2 separate regions of the Homo sapiens genome follow, and region 1 is linked to region 2. Evidence: fine-mapped expression QTL. Tissue or cell type: whole blood. Region 2 holds a variant in brackets; the other region holds the start of a gene. All regions are shown on one strand. Distances are between the middles of the regions. Region 1 holds the start of PTGER2 (prostaglandin E receptor 2). Region 2 overlaps PTGER2 (prostaglandin E receptor 2).

What was found. PIP is the estimated chance that this variant, and not a neighbour inherited with it, causes the effect.
Region 1: PTGER2 starts here. The variant in region 2 is fine-mapped to the expression of PTGER2 in whole blood (TOPMed, PIP above 0.99).

The regions. Positions count from the first base shown.
Region 1 is chr14:52,303,811-52,319,024 of GRCh38, forward strand. PTGER2 (prostaglandin E receptor 2) reads left to right here and starts at 10,502. Exons shown (of 2, transcript NM_000956.4): 1 at 10,502-11,581. The coding sequence starts at 10,739. RefSeq lists enhancers at 9,732-10,292, 10,293-10,852, 11,087-11,236, 11,257-11,396 and a silencer at 10,457-10,566.
Region 2 is chr14:52,327,938-52,343,898 of GRCh38, forward strand. It overlaps PTGER2 (prostaglandin E receptor 2), which reads left to right. Exons shown (of 2, transcript NM_000956.4): 2 at 1-661. Among named protein-coding and RNA genes, the nearest start is that of PTGER2, 22 kb to the left of the region's middle. The variant A/C (reference allele first, on the strand shown) is at 6,424.

The sequences.
Region 1 (15,214 bases), 25 kb before region 2:
CTCTTCTGTATCATCTTTTTCTCCCTCCCTTTAGGATGATTTCCATCTATATGCTATTATCCATTTTAAAAAGCAAACTTCTCTTGACCTCATGGCCCCTCCAGCTACCACTAAATTTTTCAACACCCTCAAAGCCCTTCAAACTCATTCATATTGTTGTCTTCATCCCTAGCTTTACTTTCTCACCTTTTATTTCTCCCCCATTCTCTTCCTTAGCTCCTCTCTATTCAGGTTTTTATTCCCACCATTCCACAAAAAGAGCTCTCAGCAGGGTCCCAGTGTACGTACATTCTACAAAAGTCAAGGCCAGTTATCTGCACTCATCTTATTAGACCTTCCAGCAGCACTGGCCAAGTCTCCCACTCCGTCCTTCATTCATTCAACACATCTGTATTGAGCACTTACTCTATGCCAGGCACTGTTTTAATCCTTGTGGTACAACAATCATTTAAAATGACAAAGATTCCTGCCCTCTGGAGACTTATATCCCAGCAGGGGGAAACAGTTAACAAACAAAAAACAATAAATAACTAGATTACATGGTATGTTAGAAGGCAATAAGGGCTATGGGAAGGAGAAAACATAGAACTCAGCAATAGCCTTGAAGAGTTTCCCTTTCAGCACATAATTATCCCTATAACGAAACACACCCTCTGTGACAATATTTGATATCAAGTCAAATTACAGAATACATCTCTACATCCTCACATAATAAAAATGAATCACATTTTCATCTGCTATCTTTCTGAAGTCAGTGCTCTCCTCTCTCCTAATTCTCCTGGATTTGATGTGAGGACACTGGAGAAAACACAGAAGGAACAGCTGAAACTCGAGAAGGGAGAGTGGGGATTTGGTATTTCCCATTGCGATACTATGTATTGGATCCTGGGGGCAAGTAACAGAAATGGAAGTGGCAAACGTCCAGGGTATAAGCTGACTCCTTTTTTGCCCTTTTTCCAATTATGTCAAGTGATAGCTACTTTCTCACAGTAGAGAGTGAGTCAGAAATTCAAAGTATGATAAATGGTCCAGAAGTGAAATTCTCTGTGGGTTAATACTTTTTGTTTTCATGTGAAAGAAAATAAAGCTATTGTGTAAATATAATAATTATGGTAAGCATTGATTTTATACTAGGAATGGCAGATTATTTGCAAAAATGACTAAAATCATTCCTTCATCGCTGTATGCACACTGCTCCCATCAAGAGGTACTGTCTGTTTCCCCCTCCTTTTATCCAGTCGGGCCTTGGGACTTACGTTGATTAGCAGAATGTGGTGGAAGTGATGGTGTGAAACTTCCGCATGTGGGCCTTACAACATCCACTTTCACCCTTTTGGAACATTATGCCACCATAGGAGCCAGCCCAAGCTAACCTGGTGGGAAATGAGACAAGAGCTGCCAGCTGAGGACTCCCAGACAAACCAATCCGCATTCAAGCCACCAGGAGACTACAGCCGCAAGAATGAGTCCATACAAGACCAGCACGAGAACCTCCTAGCTGAGTCCAGACCAACATAATTGACCCACTAAACATAAAACAATAAAATAACTTGGTTTCAAACCAATTCATTTTGAAGTGGCCTGTTATACAGAAATAGGTAGCTAATATACTAGGTATTAAATATTTATTATTTATTAAAATGATAATTGTTTTAACATTGAGCTTTGTTCCTTTAATAAGTAGAATTTGAATAAGTAAATTTAATGTTTATGAAAAGAGATAACAGTGAGGAGTATATACTGGAACCTTTTTTTCAATAAAAAGTCCACTAGCGGCCGGGCCCAGTGGCTCATGCCTGTAATCCCAGCACTTTGGGAGGCCGAGGCGGGTGGCTCATGAGGTCAGGGGATCGAGACCATTCTGGCTAACGCGGTGAAACCCCATCTCTACTAAAAAATAAAAAAAATCAGCCGGGCGTGGTGGCATGCCCCTGTAGTCCCAGCTACTCGGGAGGCTGAGGCAGGAGAATGGCGTGAACCCGGAAGGCGGAGCTTGCAGTGAGCAGAGATCACGCCACTGCACTCCAGCCTAGGCAACAGAGCAAGACTCCGTCTCAAAAAAAAAAAAAAAAAAAAATCCACTAGCCCTATATCTTGGTATAAGTGTTTATTTTTATAAAAATTAACCACATTATACATAGTGTTTCATGACTCACTTCATCCACTCGACATTGTAGATAACTACCCATGTCAATACATGAAGAGGTATATTTTTAAGTAGTTGCATAATATTCCATTGAACAGATACACATATTTGTACGACTCCCTTTTGACTGACAGCTGGGCTAGTTCCCAATATTAATGTACTATAGATAATACTGAAAGGAACTTCTTTATACTTACAACTTTGAATACTTACTGTTTCAGCCTCAGTTTTCTGATCTGTAAAATGGAGATATATCTGACCCCTCCTATAGAATTGTTATAAAGATTAATGACACTGTGGGAGGCTGAAGCAGGAGGACTGCTTGAGGCCAGGAGTTTGAGACTAGCCTGGGCAACATAGTGAGACCCTGTCTCTACAAAACTGAAAAATTAGCAAGGCATGATAGTGCACATCTGTAGTCCCAGCTACTCAGGTGGTTGAGGCGGGAGGATGGCTGGAGCCCAGAAGTTCAAGGCTACAGTGAGCTATGATTGTGCCACTTCACTCCCGCCTGGGTGACAAAATGAGCCTCTATCTCTAAAAAAAGAAATAAGATGAATGAAATAATGCGTATGAAGCCCTTAGCGGTTTTAGGAATATAACGAGCCCTTAATAAACTGGTTTTGTCATCACTATTATTATAAACTTCATTAGGGCACAGACCATGTCAGCATGGTCCCTCAGGGCCTGGCACATTATAAGTGCTCAACATTAAAACAGCTGACACCCGCTGAATGCTTTCTATGGGCCAGGCCCTGGGTTCAACTGGAACTTATGAAATATTACAGGTACTGCTATTATCCCCATATTACAGATGAGGAAATTGAGGCACATAGAAGTGAGGTAACTTGCTTAAGAACAGAGCTAAAGTTTGATTTCACAGCAATCTGACTCCAAAGCCCATGCTCTTAAAACTATACCATGCTGCCTCAGTAAATATATCCCCAGTAAATACAGAAATCAATATGATAGATTTCTAGAAATGCAATTTCTGGGTCTCAGGACATACATATTTTAAGGCTTTTAAAACATATATGTAAGGTAAGTTATTATAATGTTAAGTTTTTGAAAAGCAGTAAATAAAATTTTATATGCAATGTTATCATAACTATGAAAAACAATGCACAGAAGAAAAATGGAAGGAAACTCATCAAAATGTTAAGAGTTACCATTTCTGAAGGACAATTCATAGGTGACTTTTTTCCTTCTATTTTTTTTAAATTTTCTATAGTGAGTTGTTACTTTATAAGAACAAATTAAATAACCATAGCTTTGCTTTTGGTGTTATATGTGTTGTTCTACCTCACAGTTGGTTCTGTTCTTGAAAGCAAACCTAAGAAAAAGAATTTTCATGATTAAATGGCACTCTTTATCCTCTATCAATCTTAGAAAGGAAATTAGGGTCACAGGTAATCTGCCTTCCTAAAACGAGCGTGGTAACTTGTTTGATCTAACTCCTGGCGCTAATAAGGAGTATTGTAGATTTACCTGTCTGATATTTCCTGACTGAGGACAAGAGAACTGTTGTGCTCTTGCATCCATTTGCAAAGTGCTTTTTATTGACTCAGGGTTTTGCAAAGACTTTATCAAATTGTTTCACAAACAATCCTGTGAGGTTGTAGTGAGTTCCACTGAACCTTGGATACACATACACACCTACATGAAAGCAAATGTAGCCGGATAATAATTTGACATATCAACCTCTGTACTTTTTGCCCAGTACTTCCTGATACTCCAGAGCTTTCCTCAGTTTTAGCAGCAGCTAGGGTGTTCTCTGCTTACTCCCTCAGAGAAAGAACAATATAACAGACCTTGAAGAACACAGGTATCAATTCTTGACTTTCAAAAGCCTAGGCTTAGAGGAGGCCCAGATGACAGAAAATGAAGAATAGCAAAGTTTCACCACTTCTCCCCCATCTAGTTCCTCAGCCTGTGAAGGAGAGAGGGTAAAGCTCAAGAGAAGAAGAAGAGCTTAGATGTTAACACAGAGATTTGTTAAAAAAGTGGTCCTGTACTCCCAAATCTCAGAGAAGTTTCAGGGATCTGACATCACAGAAAACCTATGCCTCACTTGGGTATAAACAGGGTGAGCAGGAGAAAACAATAGTTCCCTAAGCCTTACACGGTATGGAAAGAGTGAGAATATCTCCCATGAATGCAGAAGTAATGAGGACATGGAAAGAAATGACTAGTCATCAAGTTCACTCTTCTGCCAATTCCAACCTGCTGTAAATTTTAATTCTGGAATTTCCGTTGGGTTCTTTTTAGAGTTTCCATTTCTCTACTGAGATTCCCTACTTGTCCATTGACAATTTCTCTAATTCTTTGAACATATTTATTAAATTCAAAATCTGGGCTATCTGGAAGTCGGTTTCTATTGACTACTTTTTTTTTTTTTTTTGACATTTTGGTGGACTAGTTACCACCTTTAGGAAAAAGGAACTTCCTGGCAATGCTAGTGTCAGAACTGGATTAAGCAATGACATTCGGGGATGACAATAATCTAATGTCGAAGTAGTTGCTTGAGGTGAAGGAAGGTATTATTTTGATAGAAACGACACATCATATGTAATGGTTTCCAATCTTCAAGTAAGCATGACAGTTGTAAAACCCTTGTGAAAAGCATAAGAATAGTATCTCCAATCCTCTTGATTGGCTTCAAACAGCTGGCATGACCTGCCCACTCATTAAAGAGTAGAACTGGAAGAGAATTTAAATCATTAACATCTAAGTCCCCGCCTTCTACTAAGTAGGAAGACTATGTCCTCCAATGATGATAATGTTTTTTCTAATCAAAAATCAGCTTCCTTGCATTCTAATATAAAGGTAATACATACTTACAGAAAAATCAACCAAAACAGACAGGTATAAAGAAGAAAGTACTACTTAATTACTATTAATATTTTGTTGAACATCCTTATAGATGCTGTTCTATGCAAATCCTTATGCATATAAATATTGCACTCATACTGTCACCAACAACGGACCCATTTCTCTATGTCTGATTATACTGGGTGTGCGTAATCTTTCCAAACTTTACCAATCTTTACCATCAGACAAAAAGTAAGACTCAAATTTTTCTGAGTGATTTGGTTCTAGTGCTGAGGATGAGCATCTTGCCATGTACTTCTTTCTGGCTTTTAATGGACAGTATGTGCAATATATAGTGGCCTGGAGAATAAATAAGATGGTTTGCTACCATACTCCCAGATATATTGCACTAACTCTGTGTGTCCTTGAGTAAGCCACTTAACCTTTCAATGCCTCCATTTCTTCACATGCAAATGAAGGATTTGGAATAGGCGTTCTTGAGCTTCTTCTCTAGCTATCAGTAGGGGAGTGATGGGGAATGCACCATGCAGATCTGCAGTAGGCATCTTTGGGTGACTAACTCAATAGCCATTCCCAGCCCCTCTCCCTTCCCTGCTTCTATTCTAGAAGAGGCTGGAAAAACCCAACATCCCCTCTGTAGGCCTTTTTTGGAGTTAAGGGATGACAATATGACCAAATTCTGGCTAAAAAGACAGAGGGAAGTCTATCTGGATGCTTCTAGAAAGCCTTTTGCTTTCCTGATGGAAGAAACAGGCACAAGAGAGAGCAAGCTCACCAGCACTGTCTCTCCTTTGCCCCTGGCTTCCATGTAGACTTGATGCCTAGACCCGTGGGACAGTAGTTGGCTTCGTATTGTGTTGGTCCAGCTAAGCAGCATCTGTTACGCAGAATCCTCCCATAGTTCCAGGTTAGCATTGGCCACAAGGGAAATATTGCATGAGATCTGGGAGGCAGCAACCAAGCAGCAGCCATGGTTTTTATGCTGTGAAGGACAACACAAGGCGTGAGGAACATTGGCAGTTCTCACGCATTGTCGCTGACCTGCTGCCTCACCTTGCTGGCATGGGGCAGCAAGACTCACAGTTCCTCCTGCTCCCACCAGATCTCCTCCTATGGCTTCTTCAAGTCCTAAGCCAAGTGCATCTGTAGCTCGGTAAAGGGTGCCAGCATGTTTTGCAGGACACCTGTATTATTGAGGCTGGAGACAGTGAGAGACACAGGCAGATCCGGTCTGTCCTAAAGGACTTCAGTCATTCATGAATTTCAGTTTGTTCTCACAGATTCCAGTCTGTTCTTGCTATCATCCACATCCAACTTTCTGCCCTGACTGAAATCCTGACTGACCTATAGTGACTTCAGACTCAACACTAGAACCGAAGACAACAAACAGCCATGCCAGGACTCCTCCACCAGGTCTCACATCCTGCAAGGTCTAGGGCAGCACTGTCCAGTAGAACTTTCTGTGATGATGGAAGTGTTTTATTGGGCACCTGAGCTGCCCAATATGATACCCACAAGTCACACGTGGCTATTGAGCATTTGAAATGTGCCCAGTGCTGTAGAGGAGCTAAGTTGTTACTCTTATTTAATGTTAATTAATTTAAATTTAAATAGCCAGATGTGGCTAATGGCTACAATATTGGTCAAGGGAGGCCTAGTGCCTAATAATAAATTCCATGTTTTCTTAATCACTCGTAGTGGCTCTGTTTCTCTGGTTGAATCCTGACTGATACAGGCAGCAGCTGCTAGCTACATGGGGAGAGCATGGAGACACAAAGCCAGCATTACTAGGAATCACAGGGCTAGAGGAAGAAGCAGCCTGGCTCCTGGAAGTTCAACCAGCCTACAACCTTTGAACTTCTTAGTAAGAAAAAAAATAGACCCCCAGTGGGCAGTGAACTATCACTGTGTACTTCCAATAAACCCTGTCTCTTTTCTTGGTGGCTTCTGCTTCCTGCCGTGAAGTGTAGACCTTGTCTCAAATACCACAGGACACAGATGGTGTTCTTAGGACTCAATTTGAAAAAAAAATGTATTTATGCATGCATAGGAATCATAAAATATAAATTTAAACTCGTCTTTTGAACGAGGAAAGTAACATCAATAAAACTATGAACAAGAATTAATGTTAGCTTTTTGCCCAAGCAATTCTCCTTTCCTTCATGTTTATCTTTGCTTTCTCTTGAAGAATGACCTAAAGGAAGTAACCCACCTTCCACAGTCCTTTGAATTCATGGATACATAAATGAACACTATGAACTTTAGACTTTAAGAAGTGTATATTAGTCAGGGTTTGCCAGAGAAACAGCCAGTAGGATGGATATACATAAAGATATTTATTATAAAGTATCAACTCATGCAATTGTGGAGGCTGAGAAGTCCCACAATCTGTCATGTACAAGCTGGAGACCCAGTAAAGCTGGTGACAAAGTTTGAAAGTCTGGGAGCTGAAGAGCCAGTGGTGTAGATTCCAGTCCTGGTCTGAAGGCCTGAAAACCATAAGTGTCAGCGGCAGGAGATCAATGTCCCCACTCATGCAGTGAGGCAGAGAGTGAATTTCACCTTCCCCTACTTTTTTAGTCTATTCAAGCCCTAATGGATTGCATGAAGCCCACCAACACTGAGAAGGGCATGTGCTTTACTCAGTCCATCAACTCAAACACTAATCTCCTCCAGAAACACTTTCACAGACATACCCCGCCATCATGTTTAACCAGCTACCTGGGCATCCCATGGCCTAGTCAAGTCGACACATAAAATTAACCATCACATAGTGTTCCCCACATACAATGGCCCCACAAACAGGAACTAAACAATTAGCAAAGCTCTATGGCTCAATTCTAGAATTGAGGGTGTTAATCTGTTTTCTGTTAAGGAACTCTAGGCTCTATGTAAACTGAAACTGTATCAAAATGCTGACACTAAAATTAGAAATGGGAAGAAGTAGCTTTTAAACCACAAAATTAACTGGGGGTAACTGACAAGCAAGATTAGACTTGCACTTAAAGGAACAAACGTGATGGTCCAGTTGCTACGTAGCGACAGCAAACTTATCAACTCTCCTACTCAGCAATCTAGCAACAGGGAACACAGCAAACTGCTAAACCAAACACACACACACACACACACACACACACACACACACATATGTATGTATTCTGTCCAAATGCTGGAAGCAATTAAAAGGAGTAATTTGAACAAGCAATGCTGAGCAGCACAGTAATTAATAGGATACTGGCCTCCCAAGATTTATAGGGCCCACTCTAGTCTTCCTCTTGTCACATACCTTACCACAGGTGAGACACCCTCAGGGCACTATTCACCCAGACCCCATTACCCCTCCATTCTAGACCACCTTCCAGGTACCTGAGATCATGAAATTTCCTGCTCAAATGTTGGTCCCATAACTCGCTTCCAGGGCTTGATCAGGCATCTTCCCTAGGTCCATCCAATCAAGGGTCATTTGCATGTTTGAGATGCATATTCCCAGGACCAAGGTGGCTTTGGGGAGAGAGCTTGGTTATCAACAACTATAGTGTCCACATATTGAACTATACTGTCCACATATTGAACTATACTCTCCACATATTTCTGTGCAAGACTCCTTGTGGTGCAAGACTGAGTCAGGGGTTAGGAAGACAAGGGGGCAGGGGCCTGGGGGAGGATCTTCAACTGCACTCTTGCTCTCGTATTCACAAAAACCAGGGGCCGGCCTGCCACCAGGTACCCATCCAAAGAAAAGCTAGAGACAAATATATAGGAAAGGTTAAATAGTAGGTTTTTGTTGTGAGGGGCCTTATGAAAATTAAAAAGGTATAAAAATATTCGGAAAATAAGCACTGTGCAAATTCAGTGAATCTAAAATCCCTTATTTAATAGTAAAACTGCAGTGCAGAATTATGCTATAAATCATAGTGTTTTCCTATTAAGAAATACTTCTGATTTAAGTTTGATGTTTCCCCATTGCTTGGGGTGAGATGGGGGAATGTTGGAGTAGGGGAATAGTCAGAGATGGATGGCAAAGATTGGTAATAAGTTGTTACTGACCTGCAGAGTTTACAGCTTGAAAGAAAAACTGTAGGAGTTAAGATCCTCTTTCCTAGGAATCCATGCCATGAGAAGTTTAGGGATTGAAGTAGTGCCTGCTGACATGTGAAAACCGGCCTGTAAACTTTGCAAGCGATCCAGTAAATTATGCTTGTTCTAGTGGGAACCACCCCCCCCAACTCCGCATTCCAATCCCCAGGCCAGAATCATCAAAGTTGGCAAAAAATATTCATGGAGAGTAAGCAGGCTGTAGCAAGATAGGCTCTTCAGCAGGCAATCTTTGCTTCCTCCCACGTTATGACTGTCTTTCTTGCCAGTTCCCTAGGCAGATCAGACCCTTCACTTCCCAGTTGGCCTCCCTTCCCCAAGTGAATGTGACTTCTTACAGAACACAATTACCTATGTTGTCTGCCAAACTGGATTTTGTTTTGTTTTGTTTTGTGTTAAATATCAGCCCATTTTCACGACTCTGCAATTATGACAATATGTGGTAGGAAACCATTACTGTCAGCTCCAGTCTGAAACTGGCCACTTACCAATACACTTTGCCAGGAACAAGTCTTTCTGGATGGATACTACGTGGTTAACAACATGTAAAGATAAACGGCTAAACAAAATATCAACATTTTCTTACAAGGCTCAGCTTAAGGACAGAACAGTGATGTGCAATGGTTTTCATGTTGTATCCACAAACACAATTCTGTATAAGACACACTCCTCTTTTTTTAATGGTTGCTTAAACAAGTGGTTATCCGTTATGCTGTTGACATAGGAAACGGTGAAATGCTAGTAACCGAATCAAAGCGGCAGTGCAACAGGCCGCTCGGTGGTGCGCATTGTGTGGTTTGGTTCCTTGGATGGACACACTTGCTTTACGCTTCATCCCAATTTTTGTCCCAACCTCTTAGTGTATCTTCCTGGGAATAGTAAAAACAAAGCAAAACATTCTGGTCTTACTTCAAGCTGCCTTTGCACTGTTATTCCCTTGTTCCGCTCATTTCACGGGATTGGGTTCTCCTAACTTCATTGTTTGGTGAGTTGCTTTGCTTTGCTCGTTGCCCCGATCTTCTGTGTATTCTGCGCAGACCCCGCAAGTGCTCCTGCACTCCCTCCCAGCCCTCTGCTGGGGCTTAACGCTTCCCAGCCGAGGTCAGACTGCCGTGCGCTTCGAGTACCGGACCCCGAGGAAGCGAGAAACGCCGCTCCCGCCGGTCGCGGGCAGCTTCAGTACACCGGCAACACGCGCGCCTCTGCCCAGTGCCGCGCCCAGCGGGTGCTCAGACTCCTTCTCTCCCTCCCCGCCGGCGCGCCCCAGGGACTCGGAACGCCCCCGCGAGTGTGACGCGTCCTGCCTCCCCTGCAGCTCGCGGACACTCGCACTTGCAAGGCCTGGCCAGCACTCTTGGGCCCGCCCCCCGACAGTGCGGGGGCGGAGACGACGGCTCCCCTAGGCTCTGGCTCCCGGCCTTGGCCGGCGCGGGTAGGCGCGGGAGCCTCGAGCGCCGCTCGGATGCAGCAGCCGAGCCGCCACTCGGCGCGCGGCGGGAGACCCAGGGCAAGCCGCCGTCGGCGCGCTGGGTGCGGGAAGGGGGCTCTGGATTTCGGTCCCTCCCCTTTTTCCTCTGAGTCTCGGAACGCTCCGGCTCTCAGACCCTCTTCCTCCCAGGTAAAGGCCGGGAGAGGAGGGCGCATCTCTTTTCCAGGCACCCCACCATGGGCAATGCCTCCAATGACTCCCAGTCTGAGGACTGCGAGACGCGACAGTGGCTTCCCCCAGGCGAAAGCCCAGCCATCAGCTCCGTCATGTTCTCGGCCGGGGTGCTGGGGAACCTCATAGCACTGGCGCTGCTGGCGCGCCGCTGGCGGGGGGACGTGGGGTGCAGCGCCGGCCGCAGGAGCTCCCTCTCCTTGTTCCACGTGCTGGTGACCGAGCTGGTGTTCACCGACCTGCTCGGGACCTGCCTCATCAGCCCAGTGGTACTGGCTTCGTACGCGCGGAACCAGACCCTGGTGGCACTGGCGCCCGAGAGCCGCGCGTGCACCTACTTCGCTTTCGCCATGACCTTCTTCAGCCTGGCCACGATGCTCATGCTCTTCGCCATGGCCCTGGAGCGCTACCTCTCGATCGGGCACCCCTACTTCTACCAGCGCCGCGTCTCGCGCTCCGGGGGCCTGGCCGTGCTGCCTGTCATCTATGCAGTCTCCCTGCTCTTCTGCTCGCTGCCGCTGCTGGACTATGGGCAGTACGTCCAGTACTGCCCCGGGACCTGGTGCTTCATCCGGCACGGGCGGACCGCTTACCTGCAGCTGTACGCCACCCTGCTGCTGCTTCTCATTGTCTCGGTGCTCGCCTGCAACTTCAGTGTCATTCTCAACCTCATCCGCATGCACCGCCGAAGCCGGAGAAGCCGCTGCGGACCTTCCCTGGGCAGTGGCCGGGGCGGCCCCGGGGCCCGCAGGAGAGGGGAAAGGGTGTCCATGGCGGAGGAGACGGACCACCTCATTCTCCTGGCTATCATGACCATCACCTTCGCCGTCTGCTCCTTGCCTTTCACGGTAAGTCACTCCCTACGTTTCCACAGCCCGGCTCTGCTCAGCCTTCTCATGCTCTCCCCTGACGCCTCCACCCTTTCCACCGCCCTACAAACTTTTTGCAACTTGTAAAAATATGTCCTAATTTGTAAAGATCTGTAGCCTTCCCCACTAGTTTCCCCTCCTCTTTAGCCCACTTCCTTATCCTGGCTTATGGGCGTTGCTAGGCTAGAGTTTCTTATACAATAATACAGACCGTCCGAAAGGGAGTCCTGGGCCTCAGCTAAGCTAGCCAATCTCCTCATCCTAGCCCTGGGCAGTGTCCCTTTCTCGCTGTTGCCTATCTTGGCTTAGTAATTGAGAAAGAGGCAGCCCCTTCCACCTTAGGATGGCTGTCACTGTTCCAGCCTGACGACCTGGAGCTGCAGTTTGCTGCCCTGTACCTCTCATCCACTGGTGCTGGTTCTCCATGCTTGCCTTCTGTTCCTGCCAGGGCAAAATGTAGTACCCAACCCATAGCATTCCAGCTGCCATTGAAAATGGTCCCAGATGAGAAGGGTCCCTGAAGCAGAAGTTTAGAGCATTTGTTATTTGTCCTAAAAGTCCAACAAACATCTAGTTTATAGGTTTCCCAATTTATATATTTGAATGTAACTCTTTGTGGCCATGAAAGTTTATAAAACCATAATGATAACTAGAGGAAATACTTGGAGGAACATCTTGCTAAGCATTTGTAATATCTTGCAAAACACGCTCTTAATGTCACTGTCAGAAATACACACAGGTGTCCTTCAGCTTACAGTTATGCACTTGATGAGCACAAAGCCACAGGCAGGAATGGCTGGTCCCTCTCAGGAAGGGAAGAGTGGGGCTACCTGGGGAACTGAAGGACAAGAGACCAAGTCCTGGCATCGTGCTGCCTTGATTTGGGGCAACTTTAGCAGTTATTTGATGCTAACTAACTGCTAAATGATATGAGGCTGTGAGTTCAAGTCTCCTCAAGTGTAACGTTTTAGCTGAGCCTGGAATATGTCCGAGAATGTGCTGGCCTCTTACGGGGGCTAGGAATTGGGAGTTGTGGCAACTCCACTTCCTAATCTTCAGAAGAGCAAGACTGATGCTGCAGCATCAAAGCAGTTAATAGTGACTTCCACCTGCCACAATCTTGGAGAAAAGAGATGGGCAGTGCCTACTATTAACAGGTCTGACCTGTAAAAGCTGGAGGAGAAGTAACTTTATCCTATCTCCTGCCTCCATTACTGCTTCTTACATCTTCATGTGCTCATCCTCAGGGATGGGAAGGGACACAGGGTCCCAAAGGTCTGAATATGATTCTCTCCTCCCCAGCCCAGTTAACTCCCTTAGCTACGTTCTCTTCTCCCTGGTCCCCACTGTCCTCACCCTTCTACCCCATCCTCTGTCAGGGCAGAAACTGTTCTGAATTGGTTACACTTTGAGGGAATGAGATAGAATATTCAAAGACGCCCTCTTATAAAATGAAGTCGGACTGTGGGAGGCTGCATCTCCCATACCACTCTGAGCAGGGGAGTTTATGCAACAGAAACGCTGTGATGTAGAAACCCACATGGCTTATATGCTTTTGATTTATTTTACTGGTAGGAGCTTTTGATTATGTTAGGAGCTAAATCAGCTTTTGAAGGTCAGCACTAGGATGCAGAACATATATCTATGAAAGAAAGCATTTCAAGTTCCACCAAACAGCTTTGCATTCAGCTTGGGGATCAGAAACTATTCCTGAAAGACTGTCTTAGGGTGTTGGGAATTAAGATAATCAGTTCTTAGGGTTTTATCTGTCATTTGTGAGTATATTTATAAAAATATCCCCCACTATCAGCTACTTAAATAGCCTGGGAATGGGTTTGGGGTGATAACACACTTGTGAAACGATTTTTAGTCTCTTTCCTACACGAGCAAGAGGAAAAAGTTCTCCTCTTTGATCATGACTGACCCATTGCATAAACTGTATTTTTTTTAAATAAAGGTAGTGGTTTCCAACAGGTTGCCCTGTTTTCATGTAAATTGGCCTTTTACCATGAGAATTCCATCGTTGCCTTATGTTTTTGTAAATTCAAATATATGTGTGTGGATATAGATATAGATATTGTTTTCCCTCCCTCAGTTAATATTAGGCCAAGGGCTGCTCCAGAGTTGCCAGATAGAAGGGGCTTAGCCACAGAAATCTGGCTAAAAGGTGTTGAGGGAGTAGGAGCTTTGCTTTGAAGCTGTGTTTTTATTTCAATTTCCTGTTTATGGCTTAGGGGGAGCCAGATGGAGACTATGAAGGGGCTTTAGCTCCCCCAAACCACCTCTAAGCATTGACACTATCAGCAAACTGCTTTTGCTTCTGGCAAAGATTCCCAAAGAGCCGGAGAAAATCCTAGTGTGAACATAATCAGAAAGCCAGCCTCCCTGACTTCCATTGTTGGAGCTACCATGACACCATATTCAGATGAACTATACACAAAATGGAAATTGGAAGCATTGTCACCTCTTAGTAAGAAAATTTATATTGACCACTGATGGATTTTATTTTGTCAATAGATTATTGGGAATAATTGCTAGTATCTTTCACTTACATAGCACTTTAAGCTTTATGAAATGCTGTACTATCTTGATTTAAGTTATTTCTTGAAGGGCTTATCTGAAAATTCAAGCTCATGGCTACTGTTTGGTTCATACATTCTGCTGTTCAGAATCCTTGGCATGTGCCTCCAGGGGAGGTTGCTTTTTCCTCCAAGTCCTTTTATTCTACTTGGCCCACACTAAAATTGTGGTCAGAAGTGGCCTATACCAATCTCCCACCTGAAGCAGGAATCATTTCCACATGTCCTAACAGGGGGCTCTAGAAGCAAAGGTTTATGGTTGCCTTCAGAAATGTTTCTGTTTCTCTAACGGAGTGCACATGATCTGATAGAAATACAGTGTGAACCACAAATGCAAGCCACAAACGGAATTTTAAATGTTCTAGTAGTCATATAACAAAAAGTAAAAAGAAACAGAGAAAATTAATTGAATTACATATTTTATTTAACCCAATATATCTAAAATATTATCAATTCAAAATATTAGTTATGTAAAATAATTATTAATAAGCTATTCCAAGTAAGTTTCTTCCTTGTATCCCAGAAAATAGTAGCAATCTACTCTATCTCTTCCCACTCCTTCCTCAGGATAACAAGCTGCTTTCTTTGTCCCTCAAAAGTGGACCAAACCACTGGCAACAAGGAGGACAGCTGTACCCAGTGGGACACCAGTCTATTCCACAGCACTCCAGTAGTGGACAGAGGAGGGAAATGGGGGAATTCAGAAACCTAGAACTACTAATGTCAGGCATTGTCCCAAGGTTTGGGCAGGTTGGAATTACTGCTTCCTCCAAAGATGCCAGTCTAGGGCTTCCAAAATTTTGGAAGTAAAACTGTAGTTTTTTTTAAAGGCCCAGTCCCTTCAAGTGAAGTCCAATTCAACCTCATATGTCATTATTATCGACCACAAAATCAGACTTTTGAATGCTAACTTTTGCATTAACCCATTATCTTCACAGCACCGTAGGAAATAGTATGATGATTTCTATCGTACAGACGAGGCAAATGACTCACCCTGTGTCCCACAGCTAATGGGTGGTGGAACTGGGACTCA
Region 2 (15,961 bases):
TATTTGAACAATGAAGTTGAAAATCATAGGCACCTTTTACTGTGATGTTTGTGTATGTGGGAGTACTCTCATCACTACAGTATTACTCTTACAAGAGTGGACTCAGTGGGTTAACATCAGTTTTGTTTACTCATCCTCCAGGAACTGCAGGTCAAGTTGTCAGGTTATTTATTTTATAATGTCCATATGCTAATAGTGATCAAGAAGACTTTAGGAATGGTTCTCTCAACAAGAAATAATAGAAATGTCTCAAGGCAGTTAATTCTCATTAATACTCTTTATTTATCCTATTTCTGGGGGAGGATGTACGTGGCCATGTATGAAGCCAAATATTAGGCTTAAAAACTGAAAAATCTGGTTCATTCTTCAGATATACTGGAACCCTTTTAAAGTTGATATTGGGGCCATGAGTAAAATAGATTTTATAAGATGACTGTGTTGTACCAAAATTCATCTGTCTATATTTTATTTAGGGAACATGGTTTGACTCATCTTATATGGGAAACCATGTAGCAGTGAGTCATATCTTAATATATTTCTAAATGTTTGGCATGTAAATGTAAACTCAGCATCAAAATATTTCAGTGAATTTGCACTGTTTAATCATAGTTACTGTGTAAACTCATCTGAAATGTTACAAAAATAAACTATAAAACAAAAATTTGAAAATGGAGTAGTATTTTATGAACTCCCTCAAATAACATTTTGTGATTAATATAAACATAGTATCTTTTAAATGAGTTCAAAGTGGAAAAATTATATTTAATTTGGCAGATTCGTAAAGTGTGGTTGCCAGGTTTTAAAGTGAGGTTGCAAATTAGAGTTTAAAATATTCATTATAATACTTGGTATTAGAAGATATTTTTTTCCTCCAGTTTTTACCCTTCCAGTATGATCTTTAAAATAGTAGAATCATCTTATTTTTTTCATAGTGATATTATTGGATAGCCACTCCTTAAAAAAAAAAAAGAGATGCTTGTTTTCTCCAAAGTCTCATTGAGTTGTTTATCCAAAGCTATTTCCTTTAAGCAGTTATCAAACTAGCTGATCACTTAGAATGATTTCAAACCAATCTAGGCATCAGTGTATTTTGATACAAACAATCTACGTCAAATCAGCTCTTAAGAAGAATAAATAAGTGGTTTGCTTTTCTACAAATTTAAACAAGCCAGGCAAAATTTAACTTAACTAAAATCTAGACATGTAAATAAATCTTCCCTGTCCACCAGGCATTCTAAAGTTAAGAAATTATTCTAAATGGGACTAATTAGGCCCATGGGTAATTCCTAAACATAAAATTCTGAAGTTGCTTTGAACTAGAAGATTAATTACTTTTATCAGATGACTTGTTTTTCTCCAGATGAAAATGTCAACTACAATTTTTCACCCCACCTTACTGCCCCCCTAAAATCCCAGAATAATGCCTGAGAACTGAAAACAAAAACACAAAATTGGACATAATATCACTAGCAGGAACAAAATGATTTGCTCTGGAGCCCAAAGTATAAGAATTTAAGCCACTTATTTAAGCACTGGTATATTTCTAGAACTCTGTTTCCTCATGTACTCCTGTTCCATGTACTGTGCTGAACGACTAAATCCTGGTATTTCATTTATACCAATATATATGTAGAAGGAGTTGAAAGTAAAAATACTCTGTAATAGTCATTACCTCCTATTAATGGCAATTTAAAGGTAGCTTAGAAAAAAATTACTAAAATTAGATATGTAAATATTCCCTTTCTAAAAATCCTGTCACATCAGACATACCTGTTTAAGTTACTGTTTCATCATCAAGTTAAATAAAAGAACAGAATTTACTTAGCCTGATATATTAAAGACTGAATTGTGATAAAAGAAGATCTAGACTTTATTCTTTGCCCCTAGTAGTCAGAATGAAAAGGGAGAAAGAAACCATAGTCGGGATTCCCTGCAGCATGCCAGCCCTAAGTTTAGGTGTTTCGATATGAGATGGACCAAGCTCTCTGCTCTGAGCTGAATTGTTCCTAAATGGTTCAGTGTGGCCCTGGTCATCTTTTCCAAGAAAGAACTGAAAAATTCTGGTGCTAAATTGTGGCCTTGAATCTCCAAAAATCTGATCGGGATCTGAGTTTGTTTAGAAGGTATAAGATGACTCTAGAAGACCTGCATCACAAAGTGGGTTGGACCCATGACAACCCAGAGCAAGACCGAAACTCTAGAAACCACTCCAACTCCAAATCATGATGCTTGCAGAGGTCTCGAACCCTGAGGAGGGAGGGCAAAACTGATTCACATCACTACACGCTCATGTAACTCAGTTACACTTTGGCATCTCTGTCTCCTCAGCATCAGTGCACTTTGAGAGAGGGATTGTCCTAATGCTAATGGCAGGTCAGCTCTGATCTGAACCAAGAAATAACAACACATTCCACTTTAGAATTTGATGACTTTGAAAGGCAAGGGGAGACAATTAGCTCTCACTTAGGCAGAGTTTTGTTTATTTCACTTAGCTTAAGCCAAATCTAATGGTTTTTGGAACTTGGGAAGAGCCACTACTTGAGACAGTTATAGAGAGAGATGCATTCCTCTCTATAAATGAGTATTTCATTCATGTCGACTTGCAATGCCTGCTCTTACTTGCTCTGTTACAACCTGAATATTTGATGCCTCTCTTCTGCCTTCATCAAACACTCACTCCACTGGCTTTCCTCTCAATCACCTAACAGCACTATAATTGATTTTTAAATTTACAAGTCGTTTTGATGACCTAAAATACACACTATGGAAAGAAGTATTATTTTAGCAATTCACAAAAGCTACATTTTAATTTATACATGGGCCAAGGCCATGTATTAGGCATTACTTATTTCAGAAAATTACTTTTTTTTTCCTGGCAGCTTTTGTGTTACTATACAAAAAGAAATTAAGTATATTCTCTTGAATGATATATTTTTATTTCTTATGAAATGTATGTATTATTTAAGGTCAATTTTAGTGGTTTAATTCTGTGATCCATGTATTTCACGGCACATGATAAATCCTAATAAGGTTAGGGATTAGTATCATCTTAGATACCCATTTAGTGGCCCCTCTGACCTCTTTACACACATCTGGCTCTTATTTCTGATTCTCAATGGCGGTGGTGGGTGCTAGGGGTGATGCTATATATTAATTAACTCTGAGTAACTGTCAAGAAAAATGATAATACACAAATGGGACAAATTTGCGTTTCATAGAATGCAATGAAGATTGGTACACATGGGAGAATGTAGAGGAATGAGTAAGTATAAAAGAGAGAGGAGGCCGGGCGCGGTGGCTCACGCCTGTAATCCCAGCACTTTGGGAGGCCGAGGCGGGTGGATCACGAGGCCAGGAGATCGAGACCATCCTGGCTAACACAGTGAAACCCCGTCTCTACTAAAAATACAAAAAATTAGCCGGGTGTGGTGGTGGGCGCCTGTAGTCCCAGCTACTCGGGAGGCTGAGGAAGGAGAATGGCGTGAACCTGGGAGGCGGAGCTTGCGGTGAGCCGAGATCACGCCACTGCACTCCAGCCTGGGTGACAGAGCGAGACTCCGTCTCAGAAAAAAAAAAAAAAAAGGAACAAGAGAGACAGAAAGACAACAGGGCATATGACACCTCACCATTTTGGTGCCCTCCTCCAGATCTTATCCAAGTTATCAGTGCCCATCTAAAAACAGTGGGCCAGAACCAAACACCAGTAATTCTAAACCAGTCTTACCAATACTGAATGCTGATAGATCAGTTCCTGGCTTAATCTGGATATTATGTTTCTATTAATGCAACCTGGGATTACAAAGCTATCTAGAAACCAGGTCCTGTCTTTAAAACCTCCAACAGATGGAAGAAGCAACAGCATTCCAGTTTACATAGAGGAAAACTGGGTGTGCAGGGGTGAAGTGAGTTGGTCACTAGGGACATCCTCATAAGATACCCTTATGATTATGGTGCTGATCTTGCCGCCCTGAAACCACACAGCCATCATTTCTCTCTTGTCTCTTATCTCTTGCTTTTGGATTGGCTGTGTACACTAGGGATAGGGAGCTTTGGGCTTGTCAGTTGAACCTGGTCTTTTGGGTTAATAATTTTGCCCCTGAGATTATGTGCAACTAGATGCCAGTGCCCTACCCCAGAGAACAGTTCTCTTGAAGTGGAACTCACTGCTTTTAGTTATCAAACAACATTTTTACTAGAGTTAATTGGCAATACTCATCTCAGTCCTAAGAGTGTGCCTGATAGATCATGATAAATAAAATGTTTAACAATTCAACAGCAGCACAAGCAAACCTTTGAAGACATAGTGGAGACTTTTTCAGCTCTTACAGAGCTTCTCAGTGTGTCCACATTGTGAAGTGTTCAGAGAACAAGCCAAAAAGCCCTAGAGTTTTGAAAACCCAATGTTAACTTTTTATGTTTTTAAAAATAAATGTCCTCATGTTCCCCGCAGGATGAAAGGTATGATAACCAAAACACTGTGGGCTGCATGTTGTGGTGTACTACTCTCTGACCTGTAAAAATAAATTTTTCTGGTGTGAGTAGGCGTTCCGATAAAAGAAGAGCAAGCCTAATTGTAAACTAGAGACTTTATTCTCTTGACTACCTATTATGGTGATGAGGGAGCTGGACACCCACTCCAAGAGGAAACACTTTCAGATGTTCACATCTTTCCATGACATGCCAGTCTGGAAAACTAAGGAAGGTGAAGAGTCAGATTCCTGTCTTCTACAAATTTCTTCTGTGTGTGTTTTTTGTGTTTGTTTGTTTTGTTTTGTTTTTTGAGCCACAGTCTCGCTCTGTCGCCCAGGCTGGAGTGCAGTGGCCCGATCTCAGCTCACTGCAAGCTCTGCCTCCCGGGTTCACGCCATTCTCCTGCCTCAGCCTCCCGAGTAGCTGGGACTACAGGCACCCGCCGCCACACTCGGCTAATTTTTTGCTTTTTAGTAGAGACGGGGTTTCACCGTGTTAGCCAGGATGGTCTCAATCTCCTGACCTCGTGATCCACCTGCCTCGGCCTCCCAAAGTGCTGAGATTACAGGCGTGAGCCACCGCGCCCGGCCTCTTCTGTGTTTTCAATGAAGTTATAGTGAACTACAATGGCTGCAAAGAAATATTAAGTGGGGAAACAAAATCATCCTGTTATCAGTGTTAAAGGCTTTTTCAAATAATAAGGACTTTCCTTTATTTCTCTATTTGAGCACATTAAAATGCTACTAACTGGAATCCTTCATAGCAGGAATTTTGGATTAAGAGACAAATCACATGGGGAAAAAAGCCTGATAACTTTATTTTTAAACTAACCACTGAAAGGTTAAGTGAGAATCGTGACACTGGGATTGGAATGCAGACGTCTAATCAGGGAGATCTTCCATCTAGGTGAACTTTCCATTACCCAGGCCTCCTGTCTCTCCCCCTGCTCATCGACTCCAACCACACCGGCCACCGTGCTGGGCCAGGAGTACACCCAGCAAGCTCCCATCTCAGGGTCATTGCCCTGGCTGTTATCTCTGCCTGCAACAAATGCTCTTCCTCCAGGCAGCCCTGGCTCACTTCCTCACCTTCTTCAACATTTTGCCCCAGAGATGCCTCCTCAGTAAGGCCATTACTGAACCCTCTTCCTAAAACTACACGCCCCTGCCCTCCCCATTCCCTTTGCCCTCCTCTATCTATGAGTGACCTTAAACATACCTCAAGATTGACTTATATATAATACTCATGGTCTGTCGCCCCCGAGTAGAATGTGAGTCCCAAGGACAGAGATTGCTGCCTGTTTTGATATCTAATGTTATGGTATCTCACACTTGCCAAGTGTCCTATACACGTAGAACTATATCTTATACATTTCAAGGCCTTTTTCTATTTTTTATTTACTCAGTGTGTTAACAGTAGTGAGGGCATATGGGTCGCAGCAACTCGATTTTTGCCTCAGGAGGAAAGAATTCGGCTGAGGGGCATAAGGCAGAGGGAGAGACTGAGGCAGTTTTAGAGCAGGAGTGAAAGTTTATTAAAAAGTTATAAAGCAGGAACAAAAGGAAGTCAAGCACACTTGGAAGAGGGCCAAATGGGTGACTTGAGAGATCCAAGCATGCTGTTCGGCCCTTGACTTGGGGTTTTATACATTGACATAGTTCCAGGGTTTCTGTTTCTCCTCCCTTGATTTTTCCCTTGGGGCAGGCTGTCTGCTTGCACAGTGTGGCCTGCCACATGCAAGGTGGGCCACATGCAAGGTGGTTACTGAAGTTGTGCGCATGCTCATCTGAGGCACTTTTCCCTTATCAGTCATGTGTTCCAAAAAGAGGGTCATATACCAGTTAAACTCTGCCATTTTGCCTCTTAGTGCACATGCTTAAGCCTGCTCACCCAGCTCCCAAGATCTTATTGGGAAGGTGCTGATCATCACTTTCAGGTGTTTTCTATCTATTG[A/C]GACACAGCCTTTCCCTGGCACCAGCTGCAACCAATTATTATTTTAAAGAGACAGTTTAACAACCAGCTGACTACCACCTAATGGCTGCCTGACATTCCTGGGGTCGGGGACTCTCCTGTCCAGCTCATGTCTGCCTAGCTACCTACTCTAACAAGTATATTCTTCGAAAGATATTTTGAAAATGATCCCATACCATGTTTTGAATGTGGTAAATCTCATTTAGTCTTCAAAACAACACTGTAAGGTAGGCACTGTCCCCATTCTACAGATGACAAAACGTATTCAAAATTAAGCAAATAGCTCAAGATCACACAGCTTTTAAGGGAAAGTTAAAAAATTAAACTATTTTCTGGCCAGGCACAGTGGCTCATGCCTGTAATCCCAGCACTTTGGGAGGCTGAGGTGGGCAGATTGCGAGATCAGGAGATTAAGACCATCCTGGCTAACATGGTGAAACCCTGTCTCAACTAAAAATACAAAAAATTAGCTGGGCCTGGTGGCACACGCCTGTGATCCCAGCTACTCATGAGGCTGAGGCAGTAGAATCACTTGAACCCGGGAGGTGGAGGTTGCAGTGAGCTGAGATCGTGCCACTGTACTCCAGCCTGGGCAACAGAGTGAGACTCCATCTCAAACAAACAAACAAACAAAACAACAAAAAAGAACAATTAAACTGTTTTCTGATTTCAAGCCAGGGATCATTCTACTGACCCTACATAATGGAGATCTATAATGGCCCTCTATTTCCGACTCTATTCCCCCGGAAGGAAAACCCCATTGGCATGGCCCTGGCCTATCACCACCATATTTGCAGTATCTAGGATCATGTCTGATATGTAGTAGGTGTTCATAAATATTTGTTGAATGAACGAATGGCTAGTGTCAAGGATACAATCTCTGTCAGTCTCTGAAAGACTTCATCTTCCTCCTGTTTTCTTCCCCTCCTCTCTGAACAACTCAATGTGAAGCCCTTTGGGTGGGGCAGACTAAGGCAGGCTTCTGCAGCTGGGGGTGTGAGAGCCCACGCAGGGGCCTGGAGCGGATTGTTCAAGCTCAGGTTGGGCGAGGATGGGGGTGCTGCTGTGCAGAGTATGGAGCCCTAGTGGACTGGGGAGAGTGTTCACACAGAAAGGCAGCCTACAGTGGGCATCAGAGTCCAAAGCAGATAAGAAGGTTATTCACACAGGGGGTGTGACATGGTGTGGGGCACTGGAACCCAAACAGGGAGGGAGTGGGTGCCCTGGTATTGGGTTGTGGGGCCTGAACAGATTGAAGCAGAGGAGGGTGTCCATTCACAGGAGCAGCCTTGCATGGACAATCAGAGCCCAGGGGCCTGGGGAGGCTGTCCACATGGGGTGAACTGCTCTAGGGAGGCAGAGCCTGACTGAGAGGATGGGGCATCCTTGCAAGGGGATGGCCCAGTGATGGGGTTTAGGAACCTGAGCAGGGTGAGATGGGCATGCACTTGTGGGATGGCCTAGCATGAGCTGTCAGGACCCAAGCAGGGTGAGCATGGCCTCCACGTGGGGTGAGCTGGGGACTCAGATTGGGGACTGACAGCTTGAGCAGGAAGAGGGAGGTGTAGGGAGAGGAAGATGTTGGAGATGGGAGATTGGCTACATACAGAAGGATTTATCAAATAAACAAATATATTAAAAATAACAAAAAACAGTTTAGTCACTGTTACAGAAAAATGAAGGGGAAAAAACTGGAATGGATGCTGTGGTGTTGGATTGGAATTGGGATATTGTGTTAGCTCATATTTTTCAATATATAGAGATAAATATGGAAATAAATTCATATGTAAATGTGTGTGTGTGTGTGTGTGTGTGTGTGTATCCTCTAGCTCTCTCCACTGAGAATAGCTGGGATTAGCAACCTCTTCCCCATCCAATAGCAATGAGCACACCTAGCTCATAGGTCTTGTTTTCTAAATACCATTTTCCCCTGAAAGGAACCAGGGCTCCTCTGAGAAATGGCTGACTTCAAAACTGGGGCAGGGAAAGTATAAAGCAAGCCTGGAACATCTTAATTATAAGGAAGTGCTTGAGGAATGAGAGAGCCACCTCACAAGAACACAGAAGCCGGTTTGAAAGGGGATTCCCACTGACCAAACTGGGGACAATTTGAGCATCAACATATATAATGATAATAATAGATTATGATCCCTTGAAAAAAATAGGAAACAGTGATTCCACACAGATAAAAACAAATTTAAAAATGAAAGTTTAATGAGAAACAAGCGACTTACAAAGTTTCAAAGTACCTGACCATAAAATAACCAAAGGGAAAGAATCACTTTACAGTAAGAAATCCTGACAGACCCTAATGTAATCGGGAGACCAAAGTAAACTATCATCAGTGACAGAACCAATTAAATTCTAAGCCAGAAGACAAACTGCACTAAGAATACAGTGTCACTTCTGGGATATTTCTTCTTATCGAAGAAGTACCTGAAAGAAGTAGCCTAACCCTAATCATGGAGAAATACCAGACAAACCCAAATTGAAGGATTTCTACAAAATGACTGGTTTGTAATCTTCAGAAGAGTCAAAGTCATGAAAGTCAAGACAGTCTGAACTATTCCAGACTGAAGAAAACTAATGGGACAGGACAATCAACTACAACAGGGGAATCAGAACTAGATTCTGTTGCTATAAAGAGCATTATTGCGACAACTGGCAACACTTAATAGGTCTTGAGGAATAGATGTTAGTAATGCATCAGTGTAAACTACCCGATTGTGGTTATTAAATTGTGGTTCTATAGGAAAATGTCCTTGGAAACACACAATGAGGTACTGAGGAATGATGATGCACCATGTCCACAACCTAATCTCAAATAATTCAGGGGGAAAAAGTTATGTGTACTGTGCTCCTAATGTTTCTGTGAGTTTATGATTGTTTTGATACTCAAAACAATTAAAAAATAAAACAGTAGGCATACTCCCTTCAAAAGAAAGCAAACCAAAAAAGGTCCATACTGTTTGCACATAAAGATACATTAACAATGTAAACTAAAATCAATCTAATTTCTATCACTCTAATTTTTCCTCATATATTTTGTTTTTGAGTTGTGAATGAAGATGCATATATGAAACGAATATCAAAACTAAATGCCAGTGATAGCTATCTTACTGGTTGGAGAATTAGGTGGTCCACAAAACTGCTATCTATCTATCTATCTATCTATCTATCTATCTATCTATCTATCTATCTAGAGACAAAGTCTCACTCTGTTGCCCAGGCTGGAGTGCAGTGGTGCAATCTCGGCTCACTGCAACCTCCGCCTCCTGGGTTCAAGTGATTCTCTTGCCTCAGCTTCCCGAGTAGCTGGGACTACAGGTGCGCACCACCACGCCCAGCTAATTTTTGTATTTTTAGTAGAGACGGGGTTTCACAGTGTTGGCCAGGATGGTCTCAATCTCTTGACCTCTTGATCTGCCCACCTCAGCCTCCCAAAGTGCTGGGATTACAATCATGAGCCACTGTGCCCAGCCAAAGCTGCTCTTTATAAGAGTGGTTGTCTTACCAACTTGTTTACCAACAAGTCAGGCTAAGCATTTATATGACATGAAAGGAATTTATATATTTATCACTCTGTTCCCATTAGAGAGAAATAAACCAAATACATTGACAACTGTGAACTGTTATTTAAATTTACATGACTTATTTTGGAAAAATAATGCAGTTATTTCAGCATTAAGTTAATGATAATTTTAGCTATTATATGAAAAAATGATTCTGTGCAAAAGAAAACAGTAGTCTACCCACTAGAGGTCTAGCCCACATTGTGATTATTTGAATTTGTGGGCTTTTGCAGCTTCCTCAGAATAATGAGTTCATTCTTAACTACAGAATAGCTGCACTTCAACCTTCTTGTTACTCACTTCAACCTGCACAGATGCAACAAGGTTTTGAATCTCACAAATGGAGATTTATTATTCTTAAAGATGAATTTCCATAAGTCCTTTCGCATAATGAAATTTCCATTTAACTTTCCATGCATTTCCATAAGAGCAATAAGGAAATCTGTTTGCTCACTTCTCCTGTCAATCATAAATCTATGCTCAAAAGCATGGAAGGATTGTGTTTACTCTGCAGACTGTGCACCAGGATACCCAGGGGAGGGAGCAGATTGTCAGGAAATTAGTCACAAGTACTGCCTCATCTACTTAGTACTAATCTCCTCCCCAGCCCATCCTCCACCCTGGTGTAGGGGTATTGTCCTTGGAAACAGAATAGCACAGTGCTTGGTATAAAATTTGAACTTTGAAGTTGGACAGACCTCATTTCAAATCCTAACTCTGCCACTGTTGTGTAACCTTGAATAAGTTACTTAGACTTTCTAAGCCTGTTTTTTCACCTTCATCATGAGGGTAGTAGCTGCCCACCTCATAGGATTTCGGCAAAAAGTCAAATGATAAAATCATACCAAAAAAATCACATGAGGCATATGAAATACTTAAAACAATGTCTGGTACATGGTATGATCTTTAAAAATGCCGGTTATTATTATCATTATTGATATTTTAAAATGAGAATCTGATCATGTTTTTAGGATCCCATACTTATAGTGTACTGATTTCCAATCCTCTGCTACCCAAACCTTTCTCATCATGTGGGACCTACACACACACATACCACCACCCACCAACAACACTACCAATACTAACAACAGCACCACCAACAACACAACCAATATAACAGCACTACCAATACTAACAACAGTACCACTAACACCAACAACACTACAAATACTAACAACAGCACCAACAACAACACAACCAATATAAGAACGCTACCAATACTAACAACAGTACCACTAACACCAACAACACTACCAATATTAACAACAGCACCAACAACACAACCAATATAACAACACTACCAGTACTAACAACAGCACCAACGACAACACTAGACTTACTACCAATATAACAACACTACCAGTACTAACAATAGCAACCTAACCAATACTAACAACAACAATACTAACACTAACACCATCACCAACACTACCAGTACAAACAAGAGCACCATCAGTGCTACCAATATAACACTACCAATACTAACCACAACAGCAACACCACCAATACTAACAACACTACCAATACTAACAACACTCACCAACACTACTAATATTAACAGTACCACCAACACACTACCAATGCTAACAACAAAAAACTACCAATACCAACAACACTAACACCAACACCAATACCAACACCAACACCACCAACAAAACTACCACCACCAACAACAGCACTACAAATAGCAACAACAATACCAACACCCTCACCCACCCACCACCCCTCCCAACATCATCACCATATTTGTGTTTGCCTGATGACTGTGACAGATGTTACCAACAAGTCTGAAGTTGACTGGAGAGCCTGAGGAGCCCACTGAAGCCAGAGGTGTTGCAGCTGATTGAACCTATGTTGTGTTCACAGCAAGAAATCCCCAAAGAAGTAGTGACTGGAGTGACTGCCCTACCTGTCTCCATCCATCCAAAGACATTTGGAGGCATTCATGTATGTATTTCCCCCAGGTAGTCTCACTGCTGGCTCTCTCATTTTGTTCAGGTCTCTGCTCAATGTCACCTCCACAGATAAGTCTTCCCTGGTCTATATAAATATAAAAAATATAAATCACTCGATAAAATATTTTCATTACTCTCCTTCCCCTTCCCCTCAGTCTGTTTATTTTTCTTTCTATCACCCTTCTCACTAGCCGGCAATATAGTATCTGTGTCATCATTTTGTGTGTGTGTGTGTGTGTGTGTGTGTATTTGTGTGTGTGTGTATGTATTGTCTTTCTTTACACATAGAAAAAAGTCTCCTATCATGGCGAGGCCTTTGTCTTTTTTTTTTTTTTTACTATTAGAACAATACCTCATATAGTGGGTGTTCGATAAATATGTTTGAGTAAACAAATACATGAATCAATCAACCAATCAATCAAACTGTCAGCCAGCACTTTAGGGGCAAATAACCCTAACTTTTAGTTGAGGCCAAAGGTCCTTGGAAAAATGAAATATTCCCATGTTTGCTACAGGGAAATTTACAAAGAAAAGAAGACGACTTCAATAGAGTTCACGCAAAAAAAAAAAAAAAAAAAAAAAAATCCCCAAAGCAGCCTTCACTACAAAGCTCTTAACACACACTTATAAAAGCATATATTTCTGTGTTATTTCTTTCCTGTTTATTTTCATGACTGAGTTTTTTCTCATGAAATAGGTTTTTAGGAACAGAACCCCACTCTGTAACACTGCAACTACAGGACTTCGCAGTCCAATCTGTGACTGTTGTCTAGGAACCAATTCATTCCAAAGTCATCAGTTTCCCCACATCACTGGATTTCCATCATCCCCAGAGTTAAGATCCAAGCCCCTTGGTGGTCAAACAAGGATGGGCTGGGTCCACTCACTTCCCCATCTCATTTCAGGCAACACCTGCTTCCTCCCCTCAGTGCTGAGATACTTCCAGTTTCCCCTCTCCATGCCTGGGTTCCTGCTGCCCCTCAGACTGCAGCACCTCCATTTCCCTGTGCTGCTACGCACTTAACCACTCTTAAGTCTCTGAGGAAGGTATTCCTGACTTGCACTTCCTACCATGACCATAATGAAAATCAAACGAATTCAACATTGTAATCAATAATACGTTTGCAACCCTTTGCTAAAACTGTTCAGAGCAAGTAAAACTAATATAATGGCCCTGCTTTTTCTCTGATGCTGTGTATTCTCTGAAGACATATCTCTGAAATGTTTTCTTCATAATATTCTGAAAAAATTCACCCTATTCCATATCCACTGTAGATCCTAAGATTCTAATTATGATAATATAATATTCATCTCTCCGAATACCTGTGGAAGTATACCATGATCCAAGCCTGTAAAAGAAATTAAATACAGGTGGAAAAATAAGCCTTAGACTAATTATTTTTCCCTCTGCAGATAATCTTACAAACAGCACCCAGCTTTTAAGAAATGGCAAAAAAACAAAGCAAAACGAAACTTAACACTGATTTAGTCAGGCATATCTCTGTCAACTCATTCTATCAACTTTTAACTCAGCAAGAACTCTAAACAAGGAAGCCCAGTTTGGTCAGTCACAAAACTGTATATTATTTCATGAAGATTTTCAGAGTATAAGTGATATCTCAGAAATAATGGTGTTATATCTAAATACATCATTTTACATGAAATTTTCTCAAGGCAAAACAAAATAAAATGGATCTCTGATAAGCATTTGCATTTCTTATGCCAAAAAACAATACCCCAGGGGCTAAAACTAGAAGCTATAGTTTGAGTTTCCTAAGAATTCAAGATAAAATATCAAATAGTGACATAAATAATAAACTCAGCCACATATGTTACATTAAAAAACTTTTTAGTAGGCTTCCACTTTAAATGTTGATCCCAAAGTCTTATTTTACATTCAGATATTTATTTCGAGTGAAGAATTTTGAACTAAGAATAATGACCAACGTGGGCATCTAGCTTTGGCTGAAAATTAAACAAAAGAAAAATCAGCAAATACACACATAAGAGAACTTGTGCTTTGATTGTGAAGCGGTCATTATGACTGTATATTGCGTTTCCAAACATCAGTAAATAACAGTGTTCACTGAGAGGATTCTTCTCCAGAAATGAAAGTGTTGATTGAAAGGCTTCTTCTTCAGACTTATCTTTGGAAAGTCCTTTGAAAATCAAGTACACATGCGTAAATACAATTTTTTTTCTTTTTTTCTGAGATGGAGCCTCACCCTGTTGCCCAGGCTGGAGTGCAGTGGCATGACCTCGGCTCACTGCAACCTCCGCCTCCCGGGTTCAAGTGATTCTTGTGCCTCAGCCTCTGGAGTAGCTGGGATTACAGGCGTGCACCACCACACCCAGCTAATTTTTGTATTTTTAGTAGAGATGGGGTTTCTCCATGTTGGCCAGGCTGGTCTTGAACTCCTGGCCTCAAGTGCTCTGCCCGCCTCAGCCTCCCAAAGTGCTGGGATTACAGGCGTGAGCCACTGCGCCTGGCCCAGTTGTATTTTTTGTATCCTATGTACTTCCGGAAAGGATTTCAGGAAAGTTACAATGGTAAGTCACCTATGCAACACAATAATCATGTACAATTATGTATTTCTAGTTATATATATGAACTAAATGAAAATAAACTACTCTTTCCTTAATACCACATTGCCTGTCTTTTGTGTTGATGATATGACAGACATTTGTTATCTAATCCCAATAAGAAGAGAAAAAAAACTCAACTGCTAACGGTGAGGCATTCTAGAAAATGTAATGGACAATGTCCAATATTGGAACAAAAGAAATGCTCTTCAAATGTAGCCTTAATTAACAGACCTTTATTAAAATTTTTAAACTTGGCCCAGTTCAGGTATTCTGTATACACAGACAAGACAATATGATATATATAATAAGATACTTTCTGACTATCTAGCAAGACAACAATCATGGTGGCTTTTTATTGTGTCAATGTAGTTAAGCTACAACTGTTTTCCAGAGCTCCCTTCTTTTCATGGTTTTGGGTTCAGGTTGGCCACAAGAAAAATGTTTGCCAGAATTAGAAGGCAGTAGTAAAGCCTCAGCCATGTTTAAGCTCTGAAGGGCAACGTTAGGTCAGGTAACACTGTGGCTCATGCACATTGTTAGATTTGCTGACTCATCTTGTTGGCATGGGAGGGCAATGGCTGGGCCCCCAGCAACCCATCTCCTCCCAGATCTCCATGGGACAGCAGCCTGGCCCACTGCATCTCCAACAGGAGCTAGATTGCTTTCTTCAGCTTTTTTGAATCCTGCACCAGGTTCATGTGCTGTGCCAAGTGAGTGCACCAGGTCTTCTGAAGGTCACTCACATCATCAAGGGGGTGGTGGGAGCCCAATAAAAGATATCCTAAATAACTATCCTAGATATCCAAGGCTGATAAAAGAGATCCTAGAAAAAGATTACCCTATCATTGAGATTTATCTGGCTTCTGGCTTCCTTCCAAGATATTTTTAGCTTCATACCATAAACAGGGCATGTAAGGGTGAGTCTACCCACTTTCCCAAGAGGGCTGTCTTTTAGGCCAAGGAAAACAAATGGTAAAAAGGTGAGGGATCATTCTAGAAAGATCTTTATAGAACTGACAGAGTAAAAGAAGTGGCTAGGTTTCACAATTTGGACAGGCTATCCCTGGAACAGTACACATTGTTTCTTTATTCACAATAGAAAAAAAAAATACCTACACATACATACCTACAAAGCCAGTTGACCAGAACAAGAAGGAAATACCTTAGAAAATGCCTTATTCTATTGGCCTGGAAACCTAACCAATGAAGTGAGACAAGAAACAGAAACACATATGAGAGTTAGAAAGGAAGACACATTGTTTGTAAATAATGATTGTCTGCATGGAAAATCCACTGGGCACTTTAAGCAAATGATCGGAATAATTTTTTTTTTAAGTTCAGTAGGTTTGCTGGAAAGATCAACTTGGAAAAACCTATAGTGTTCCTACACACAATGACAAATGAGAA